Homo sapiens: one gene and its partners. The protein of the gene in region 3 purifies or fractionates together with the protein of the main gene of each other region. This does not show direct contact. Each region holds a gene or a part of one and is shown on either strand. Other genes may lie near its edges.

Region 1 (3,653 bases), on a different chromosome or scaffold from region 3:
TTTGGGACAAATATTTGATTGATAGTTCACTTCTAGAAATTTCAGTAATTTTAAAAGACTGTGGTGTCTCTAAAACATGAATACGCCGGCATTTAGGTAACATGTATCTACAGAATCATTTTTAAGTCTAGTAACAAAAGCAGCAATTCCTTTAAACAAAAAAAGATCAACAACTTTTGTTACGTAGGCACTAGTAATAGCTTTCAACTTTAAATTCCATGTGCACTTCTTGGATATGCCAAAAAATATTTGTCAATGAAGGAGACTGCAATGAAGGAACTGTTGAAATTCTGCTTCTATAAGCTTCAATAATATTTAAAATGCTGAAGGTCATCAGTTTAACACTAAAACTTCACTAGACAAAATACAGGTATGTTTCTGATTTGCCCAGTGAAAACATGGTACTTCTTAGGAAAAGAAGTGTAGGCGTCATCAGTAACTATAACCATGAACACTGGAGTATCTAAGCCTCTTCTGCCTGATAGCAAATGGGGCCCAGAGCTATCCTCCCTCCTCCTGAACCTTGACAGCATCATGTCCTAGCATAAAGGATCCCCCGAACTCTATGATGACGTCTGTGTACTCGATGGCCTCTGTAAGCAGTTCTCGAGTGGGATCTCTAGACCGGCACCATCAGAGCTACCTGGGAACTGGTGAAAAATGCAAATTCTAAAGTCCCAACCCAGACCTGTTGGATCAGAAATGCTGGTGCTGAGAACCAGCAATTGGGCTTTTAACAGCCCTCCAGATGATCTGATTCACATTACAGTTTGAAAAGTACTAGCCTGTGTCTTCCCCATGTGATGAATTTCAGTGCACTAATAAAGGGCTATTTTAATTTAAAATAATTTGGGGAAGGTGCTCAATGTCCTTTCTTACAACTCTGAGCAGATAAAGCTTCACATTAAATAATTTTCACTAAACCAAATATGAAAATATTCTTTTACCATGCTCTACACCCTTTTCTTTGATCATACTCAGGGAAAAACCAAAAGTGAAGAGTCAGTTACAGGTTAATTATGAAAGCTTTACATTATTCAAGTCTTATTCCTGTACATACGAAGAAGAATTTTTGTTTCAAAAAAATTTTAGGTAAAATTACTTCTGAACTTTTTCTTGATTGCACCACCTACAGATAAGCTCTCCAGATCTCATGTAAATCACTATGAATGGTAAAAAGGAACAAAGACATAACATACATTGAGATATTTTTTGCAAAGCACTCATATTACGTATATACACACCTGCATAAAATAAAAGGACTCAACCCCCTCAAAACCACAAACTGTTTTTTCCTACCATTGCAATAGCAATGCGGCCGAGCTCTACGACACGGCTGCTGCAAGACACAGACACAAGCACGAGCACTTACAACTGTACCTTCTGTGCTCACCGTGTCAACCACAGCATTGACAAGGTGCATTACGGTCACTATGGAAGCTTGCAAAAAGGTACAAAAGCAGTCAATTAGGAACATCTTCAGTTAGTTAGAAAACAGTGCATGAAATAAAGTTTTGTATTATACCATTTCTACCTCAGATTCCAACCGATGAGTGCTTTAATACAACCACATAATGATGCGTGGTCTCCTCACTGTTAGCTGTGTGTCTCAGAGACTTTTTTAATCGAGCTATATATTTGTTATTATTAATCAAAGGAATAACGTAAACATATTTTATTGGAATTTAAACAAAAAAACTTTTAGCTTTAAATTTTTTCACAATTACAATTATGCATCATGCCAGGCCAAAACGATTCTTATTTTAACATCTTACAGGCAAGACTCGACATTCCAAGACTACAGTCTGTGGTTCGCCACTCTTCCGGCTGCTTAATCACTCACACATTGTCCCCCAAAAAAAAGAAATTGAAGGAGAAACATATGCAATCTAAAACAAGAATGTTTTTGTCCCTGTTCTGATTGCTTTCCCTGCAAATTTCTCGTCTGTTTGCAGATGGACTAATCGCTGGTGAGCTAATGTACGAGTATAGGAGGAGACTCTGTCCGTCTGTTTCCTGTGTAAATTCCCTTTTCATTTGTGTATCAGATTGTTTTAAAATAACTATGCCAAGGTAAATATGTACGCATGTGGTAGGCAGAAGGCTGGCCCTCAAATAGTCCACGTCCTAATCCCAGGAGCCTGTGAATATGTCACTATACATGGCAAAAGGGACTTTGTTGACGCGGTTCAGATAAGGAAATTGAGATGAGGGATTTCCCTGGATTACCTGGGTGGGCCCAGTGTAATCATAAGGGTAACTTTTCTGCACAGAGGCGTTCCCAGTTACGGCTGGGGGGAGCTCTGCTGACAGAAGGGTGGTCAATGAAACACTGTGTTGCTGTCTCTGAGATGGAAGAAACCAAGAGCCAAAGAATGTGGGCAGCCTCTAAAAACCAGGAAAGGAAGGAAAACAGGTTCTTCCCTCGAGCTGCAGAAGGCAATGCAGCCCTACTGATCGCATGACTTAAGCCCTGTGAGACACAGGGGTTGGGCTTCTAAGCTACAGAATGACAGCAACACAAGTCTACATTGTTTTAGGCCACAAAGTTTGTGGTAATCTGTAATGGCCCTGGAAAACCGGGAATACGACGCAGGAACAGACTCTCAGCAGACTTTCAGTTTACAACTGATAATTACATTATGGTAATGAGTAAAATAAAAACACTCCTGTATATATGTTTTTTCTCTGCATTGTACTATCTGGAAGCTAGTTTTCATAACTAATTTGACCATAACTTATTGAAAGCACTTGGGACTATTTTTTTTTTTGAGACAGAGTCTCGCTCTGTCGCCCAGGCTGGAGTGCAGTGGCGTGACCTCAGCTCACTGCAAGCTACAACTCCCGGGCTCAGGCCATTCTCCTGCCTCAGCCTCCCCAGTAGCTGGGAGTACAGGTGCCCACCACCACGCCCGGCTGATTTTTTTTATATTTTTAGTAGAGACGGGGTTTCACTGCCAGGACGGTCTCGATCTCCCAACCTTGTGATCCGCCCGCCTTCACCTCCCAAAGTGCTGGGATTACAGGCGTGAGCCACTGCGCCCGGCCACCTGGGACTATTATTAAGAAGACTGATGTTCCAACAACAAGAACTAGAAAGAAAATGCTGATAAAATTCTGAAATGTATTTATAAAGAGCATTTAGGGGCCAAGATATAAATTATTACATAAACTGGAAACAGGAACTTCTTAGAATTAAAATTGATAAAAGACATAATTCTATCTTGTTGGTTTAACAAGCAAAGCTATGTCCATACACCCTATTCCTAATCAACACAGGTATATTTTGATACCATATATACGGTATCAAAATATACCTGTGTTGATTAGGAATAGAGTGTGTATATATATATATACTTGAAAGTATATATATATATATATATATATACTTGAAATCAGAAATGATAGCACATACTTATAGCTATCTTTAGTTTGAAAAATGACTGCAATAGATAATGACTATATGGATTTATGGACTATATGATGTATTATGGACTATATTACTCTGGATTGAATAATTATTAGTGGGGTTACCTTTTCCCACCAATAAAATATTTGAAATGTATAACATATTAATATGTTTAATAATAAACGTATTACGTTTATACAATAAAAATTATCATTAAACTTACTAATTCTGAGATTCAAAAATT
Region 2 (3,653 bases), on a different chromosome or scaffold from region 3:
CTGCAACCTCCACCTCCTGGGTGCAAGCAATTCTCCTGCTTCAGCCTCCCAAGTAGCTGGGACTACAGGCATGCACCACCATGCCCAGCTAATATTTATATTTTTAGTAGAGACGGGGTTTCGCCATGTTCGCCAGGCTGGTCTCAAACTCTGACCTCAGGTGATCCACCCGCCTCGGCCTCCTGAAGCGCTGGGATTACAGGCGTGAGCCACCATGCCTGGCAAATAGCCGTTTCTTAGAAACCTCAATTCCTAGTCATGATTTACAGTGCCTGATTTCTGTACCAGAATGAGACACATTGCTGAAAATTTGTCCCTTTTCCTTTTCAGTTTAAGAACAAGGTTTAGTGTAACCTGTTTCTGGCTCTTTGTTGTCATCTGTCAAGGGCCATTTTCTGGGTTTTGGTTTTCGTTGTAACATCTGCACTTCTCAGCAATCCTCAGGAGGAGGCAGGAAGGATGGGACTTAACACCATAGCATCCTTGAAATAGGCCGTTCCATGCAGGGAGTATTTTAAGCCTCCCTTTTATCCTCCCTGCCTCGCTTGTGTGGGTTCATTCCCCAGGGCGTGCCAGGTAGAGAAAACAGCCATGTGGAACCCAGCCAGCTGAGAAGGCAGTGGCTGGAGAGGCTGGTGGCGTAGGAAGTGTCACCATGCACCCTGGTGATGAGAACAGGGTAGGCCACCTTACCAGGTAGTGGCCAGAGGTGTGGGGACCCTCAGGGGACCTCTTGGCTTCAGGTGAGACACCCCCAACTCTCCCTTTCTCCAGGCCATGTGCATGATCATAAACGGTTTAATTTCTTCATTGCGCTTCCATGTAGATTGCAAGGCTAACAGGACTTGGTATGAACTAACCCGCATGTCCATCCACTGAGCTGCCAGCACCGGTAACACCGTGTTGAGTGAGAAGTGAGTTGGGCGATGCTGGGTTGCACGCCTGACTTCGCCTTTTCTCCCCTGACCCAAAGGTGGCGACCTGCACATGACCCAGTTTTTCCGAGGCAATCTGGCTGGCTTAACTCTCCGTTCCGGGAAACTCGCGGATAAGAAGGTGATCGACTGTCTGTATACCTGCAAGGAGGGGCTGGACCTGCAGGTCCTCGAAGACAGTGGCAGAGGCGTGCAGGTAACACCGAGCGCTCGACTGCACACCACTCATGGGCCCCTTAGACTACAGCCCCGGAGGCTGGTGGGATGAGGGAGTGAGTAATCTGTGATTGATACGTTTACTGTTGGGTAAAAGAGTTGTGTTCACTGGACTTAAACGAGCTTTTCTTTTTCAAGTCAGCAATTCAAATCGAACCCAGGCCAGTCCCCTTTGTGGAGGCATCTGTGGTTTCAGCTCCTGCGGTTACTGGCTTATTCTTCTCCTCTCTGTGGCTGGTGTGATTTCAGATCCAAGCACACCCCAGCCAGTTGGTATTGACCTTGGAGGGAGAAGACCTCGGGGAATTGGATAAGGCCATGCAGCACATCTCGTACCTGAACTCCCGGCAGTTCCCCACGCCCGGAATTCGCAGACTCAAAATCACCAGCACAATCAAGTACGTCCTGATTTTTAACAGCCGGCCTGTTTTGCCCAATGACACTTGTATATTTAGGTTTTTAAGACAGCCTAACCCCTTCTGTAAGGAAAGGTGAGCCATCGTGTGTAACCAGAAAGTGTGGGGCAGAGAGCTGAGTGATATTTACGCATCTTGTTTGCAAGTGTGTTCCTGGAGTGGCCCCGGCAGGTGTTAGTGGGGGCCTCTGTATCCCACCTCCATGTGCCTTTGCACAGGTGGGCTCCAAGATCGGCTCCCAAAGCCCTGACCCTTCCCCATTTCTTGCTGGCAGGTGTTTTAACGAGGCCACCTGCATTTCGGTCCCCCCGGTAGATGGCTACGTGATGGTTTTACAGCCCGAGGAGCCCAAGATCAGCCTGAGTGGCGTCCACCATTTTGCCCGAGCAGCTTCTGAATTTGAAAGCTCAGAAGGGGTGTTCCTTTTCCCTGAGCTTCGCATCATCAGCACCATCACGAGAGAAGTGGAGCCTGAAGGGGACGGGGCTGAGGACCCCACAGGTAATGTGCTCTGTGGGGCGCGGGCTCCCTCGCCTCGGCCGGAAACCCCATTGTCCCCATGTACTTGGCGGGGCTCTTTGTCTCTGTGGGATTTGGGGAGGTTTTAATCTTTCGTTGGTGTTCTCTCGGGTGTGCTTCTGGAATCTGACCCGTGAGCTGGAGCTCATGGTGATCTCTGGAATCCCATCTGGAGGGGTCTTACATCTTTTCCTGGTTGCTGCCAGGCTTTGAGATGTGGCTTGAGGTTGAGGGGTTGAGGGCACTTACGGGAGACACTGCTTGCACCTGCCAGGCTGGCCAGCCCATGGAGGCACAATGTCCCCACAATTCTTGCTCAGGACACATGAAACTCCCCCCCTTTTTTTTTTTTTTTGAGATGGAGTCTCACTCTGTCGCCCAGGCTGGAGTGCAATGGTGTCATCTTGGCTAACTGCAGCATCCACCTCCTGAGTTCAAGCGATTCTCCTGCCTCAGCCTCCCGAATAGCTGGGATTACAGGGACCTGCCACAACGCCCGGTTAATTTTTGTATTTTTAGTAGAGACGGGCTTTCACCCTGTTGGCCAGGCTGGTCTCAAACTCCTGACCTCAGGTGATCCACCCGTCTTGGCCTCCCAAAGTGCTGGGATTACAGGCGTGAGCCACTGCGCCCAGCCGTTTCTTGAAAGCAACTCTCGCTTGCTTCTGTCGTTGGTCCTTACGAGAGCCATGTAGGTTTGGGGTGAGCCGGCAGGGCATCCAGTGTGCCCCGCCACGCTGGGCCCCACTGCCCCTACTTAATATTTCTGGTTGGGCCTCTTTTGCAGTTCAAGAATCACTGGTGTCCGAGGAGATCGTGCACGACCTGGATACCTGTGAGGTCACGGTGGAGGGAGAGGAGCTGAACCACGAGCAGGAGAGCCTGGAGGTGGACATGGCCCGCCTGCAGCAGAAGGGCATTGAAGTGAGCAGCTCTGAACTGGGCATGACCTTCACAGGTAAGGGGAGCGCTGCAGCCACGCAGGTGGGCCAGGCTGCAAGAGGGGACTTTGAGAGCTCTTGGCTGGCTGCTGCCTGCCATCTGAGAATGTTGAGTTATCTTAGAGGGAGATGGGGAAGGAGCACGTTCGCTGGGATCATTGTTGGCTGCACGCATACTCCTGTCTCCTGGACAGGTACCGGATGTGTAGCCACTACTCTCTAAAGGGGGAGGGTTGAGGCGTGGGATGACACGTCCCCCACAGAGGGAAGAATGCCCCTGTGCACATTGCATTTATTCCCATGGCTAGAAAGCCAACTTGTGTGACCCCTTGGCCTAGCTAACCTGGGTGTCTAATTGAGCCTGCCTGTGCTGACGGCTGCAGCCCTGCCCATGCTCCTGCCCTAAGCCACCCGGCAATCTTCCCCCTTTCAACCCCTGCAGGCGTGGACACCATGGCCAGCTACGAGGAGGTTTTGCACCTGCTGCGCTATCGGAACTGGCATGCCAGGTCCTTGCTTGACCGGAAGTTTAAGCTCATCTGCTCAGAGCTGAATGGCCGCTACATCAGCAACGAATTTAAGGTGGAGGTGAGTACAAGGCTCCCACTGAGCAGGGCCAATAGCAG
Region 3 (3,653 bases):
GTTAGATTAAAAGCTCAAGGGGATCTACAAGCTGTTTCTGTGCTCCAAATAATGTACGACACTATTTGTAACAATCACAGAAAACGATTTATATAAATATCCTACTTTTTACTTGTGAAGCATTTTCCTAATTTTTAAAAACAATTCATTGGCTTAATCTTAAGGATAGGTAGAGCATGCCTTATTTTTGCCATTTGACCAATGGAAAAATCAAGGCACCCAGTGGTTCGAGGAAGTGGAAAATAGTTAATGGCACAATTAGAAACCATGTCTCCTTAATCTCAGTCCAACATATTTTTTAATAAAAATTGTATTGAAATAAAAAAATGAAAGAAGTAACTATATTATGAAAGCAGAGAACTTAGATGCAGGGCTAGTTATGTTTTATTTTCAATGCTATGTTTGTTCTTTGGGGGATGATACTTTCTTTTACAGTCTGGTGAAAATATCCAGTGAGAATTATTGGATTCCCATTGTTTTATCTGAGACTCTTCAAAATTATAATTCCTTTTATAATTACTTGTTTTCTCATCAAGAGATGTATATATTTTACATATGACCAGCCCTAGTTCTTAGTTCTCAGATATTTTCCACAATTAATGAATATACTAGTTAACATGTAAAGAACAATTAAATGTATGTGATGATTTGTGTGCCAATCCTCAGACTAGTTACTCCCAAGAAGTCTGGGCCTATAGAGCTGAGAAACCAAATTCGAGAATGCTAACTAACATTTTCCTGGTGAAATCCTACAGAAGTTTACTATTTCTCAGTACATTGCTACAGAAATCCCAATGAAACAAGAGAATTTCAGAGGGGGTTGTCTAGCATATCCAAGATGCTGGGTGGCAAACACCGTAGCTCCCAGTATTCCCATCCGTTCAACACTTGCCTTTCCAGATAATGGGGATACATATATGGGCCAGGGATGCTAGTCTCTCCACTAAAAAATTAAAAGCAAAACCAGATCCTCTAAAATACATTCTTATTAAGTAAAGGAGAGTGTTCAGTTTAATTCAATAGATGCCAAAGATTGATTTTTATCTCCAGTTGGTCCAGGAAGAGACAAAAAGGTAAAGGAGGTAAAATGTTTTTTTAAAAAAAGAAAAAGATACAAAGTTTTGCATTAATCCAGTGACATTAACCATTCTTATGATTCATTTCCTTTCTCTTTAGTTAACCCACCAAAGATGACGATATGGTAATATCAGGAGTAAGTGGGGGTGTTATTATTTTACGAAGGCAACTGGCTCACTGAAGAACTCTGGTTAACGTCTAAAAATTTTGAAAAGATTTGACTTTCATGAATTCTCTAGGTTCAGATTTTCTGAAATGATCCAAATTTCAAACATTCTAGACTCTCTCTAGACTTTGCGTTCCAAGATTTGGTTTAGAAATGTGGTTCATGTTCTAAAACTCCTCCCAGTCTCATTCCTATTTTGAATCTTTTTCCCCCATCTTTTTTTTCTATTTTAATTTAACTGTCAACCTCTACATATTTTCTGCTATGCCATTTCTTTTTCTTTTCTTTCTTTTTTTATTTTTATTTATTCATTTTATTTATTTATTTTTTTGAGACAGAGTCTCCCTCTGTCGCCCAGGCTGGAGTGCAGTGGCATGATCTTGGCTTACTGCAACCTCCACCTCCCGGGTTCAAGCAATTCTCTTGCTTCAGCCTCCCAAGTAGCTGGGATTACAGGCGTGCACCACCACACCTGGCTAATTTTTGCATTTTTAGTAGAGACAGGGTTTCACAATGTTGGCCAAGCTGGCCACGATCTCCTGACCTCAAGTGATCCACCTGCCTCGGCCTCCCAAAGTGCTGGGACTACAGGCAAGATCCATGGCTCCTGGCCTGCAATGCCATTTCTATCTTTCCTTTTATAACACAAAGTTTTTTCTTCTTCTATTGATACCTTCTTTAGAGTCTTCCTATCTCCTCTTGGTAGGTTTTCCTTCTCAATCTAAATATGTATACACACACATATATATATTATGCATATTATATATAATGTATGTATATATATAATATATATGTGTGTATACATTTAATATTTCAGCCTTTCCCACTCTTCCTCCTTCAAATCGCTTGCTTTACTTGAGAGGTTAGGTAATCTAGTCATCAAAAAAGAGAACTAAGACTTGTAGGTGCTTGACTTACTGTTTTGCTGCATGACATATGCCAGGAACATCCTTTTCTTGGTGGTGGAGGGGGTGGAGAAAAGGTTTGCATCTGTGTCTAAGTGTTGCAGAAAAACCCAACAGGCACAGACACACCTACCTGGAAACAATGCTTCCCTAGAAGTGGGAGGAAACCAGAACTGGAGGTGCCCTCCTTCTGGGGGTAGGAGTCAGCTAATAGACATCCAAGGTGTGCAGGAGTGCTTTCACTCTGCGCAGGAAAGATCAGAGAGAAGTCCAGAGCCTTGCCTGCTTGTAAGTACCCACTTGTGGCTGGGGGGAATTTCCTAACTGTTCACGGTTGCAGAGCTTGATTAAATAAAGCTCTCATTAGTTTAAGAAATGACCCAAGAAAGGAGAGAGAAGTCGGGCTGTTTTTAAATGTAATATGATTTTCCATTTACTTATTTATCTTTAAAATGAGGTAAAGAGCAAAACATCTGGAGTAAGTTGCCTCAGGAAGGTCTTATTGGCTGTTGGCTTTGCAGGTGATCCTGGTGGAGAAGGTGGAGTATGGTGAGCTGCTTGCTAAGGACAGCCAGGCAACGCTGTGTTTGTGAAGATGTGCTCCACCTTCTCCTCTGTGCATCCCAGCTCCTCCTGCTGAAACAGCTGAGCTTGCTTTTTGGATTTCTTAGACTCCTGGCCTCTGAGAGACACCTCTAAGGACAAACTGACCTTGCATTGGGAACTTTATTATCCAGATCCTCATAGGCTTTGTCTACTCTGGATTGCTTGTTGCAACAGTTCTTAGGAAGCAAGATTGTCTCCTGCACCAGCATCTGCCTGTGTTTGCTTTTACCTACTTTGAGCAAGACCCAGTGAGGCCCTAGCTCTGTTGGTCCTGAAAAGCCTGAACCCTGAGGCTGTTTCTCCTGCCTCCAAAATGCAATTATAGGAAATAAGAAGCACAGAAACAGTGGAAACAACCAGGAGGAGAAACAAGAAAACCTAAAATTTTCAATATTCAAAAATACCTGTCGTGGTGGTTGATGCAGAAAACACTGAGTTCATCAAAGAGCTTTGTAATTGTTGGACCAGAGAACCCCTTTGCTACAGGAACTGATATGTTTTGTCTTTCTGGCCTAGTCAAGGGAGGATAAGTAAGTATCTGGGGCATGGAAGGAATGCACTCTTGGGCTGTTTTGCTTGTATCTGACTCACCCCTGACTCTCCAGTGAAGCAGAAAGGAAGAAACCTCACACCACCCAGGTGTGGCCAGACTTTGGCCATTATTGTGAATCCCCAAGAGTTACCACAGGCCCTTCCCAAATATATATTTAATCTTGTGGTTCAAATAAGCTTTTGGCTCACATCTAAGCACATCATAAAGAACGCTGTAGAAGAGGTGACATGATGAGGCGGGAAGACGAGGAAGAGGAGGGAACAATGATGAAGGCAAAAGGGGACTTAGAGATGAAGGAGGAGGAAGAGATTAGTGAGACAGGAGAACTGGTTGGCCCTTTTGTGAG

Evidence for each region.
Region 1: the proteins of CD96 (region 3) and FAT1 purify together in Homo sapiens (affinity purification with mass spectrometry, with the first as the bait; one large-scale study listed by BioGRID). This does not show direct contact.
Region 2: the proteins of CD96 (region 3) and CLSTN1 purify together in Homo sapiens (affinity purification with mass spectrometry, with the first as the bait; one large-scale study listed by BioGRID). This does not show direct contact.

What each region holds. Positions count from the first base shown.
Region 1 is NC_000004.12:186,591,313-186,594,965, forward strand, and holds part of FAT1 (protocadherin Fat 1 isoform 1 precursor), read right to left. Parts: intron 1-3,653.
Region 2 is NC_000001.11:9,733,363-9,737,015, reverse strand, and holds part of CLSTN1 (calsyntenin-1 isoform 1 precursor), read left to right. Parts: intron 1-973; coding exon 974-1,131; intron 1,132-1,400; coding exon 1,401-1,549; intron 1,550-1,841; coding exon 1,842-2,068; intron 2,069-2,873; coding exon 2,874-3,044; intron 3,045-3,469; coding exon 3,470-3,615; intron 3,616-3,653. UniProt on the Homo sapiens protein: Postsynaptic adhesion molecule that binds to presynaptic neurexins to mediate both excitatory and inhibitory synapse formation.
Region 3 is NC_000003.12:111,594,083-111,597,735, reverse strand, and holds part of CD96 (T-cell surface protein tactile isoform 2 precursor), read right to left. Parts: coding exon of another isoform or gene 3,535-3,653; exon of another isoform or gene 2,670-3,534; intron 2,437-2,669; exon of another isoform or gene 2,234-2,436; coding exon of another isoform or gene 2,162-2,233; intron 1-2,161. Other genes in the region: ZBED2 (zinc finger BED domain-containing protein 2), read left to right, coding at 3,535-3,653. UniProt on the Homo sapiens protein: May be involved in adhesive interactions of activated T and NK cells during the late phase of the immune response. Promotes NK cell-target adhesion by interacting with PVR present on target cells.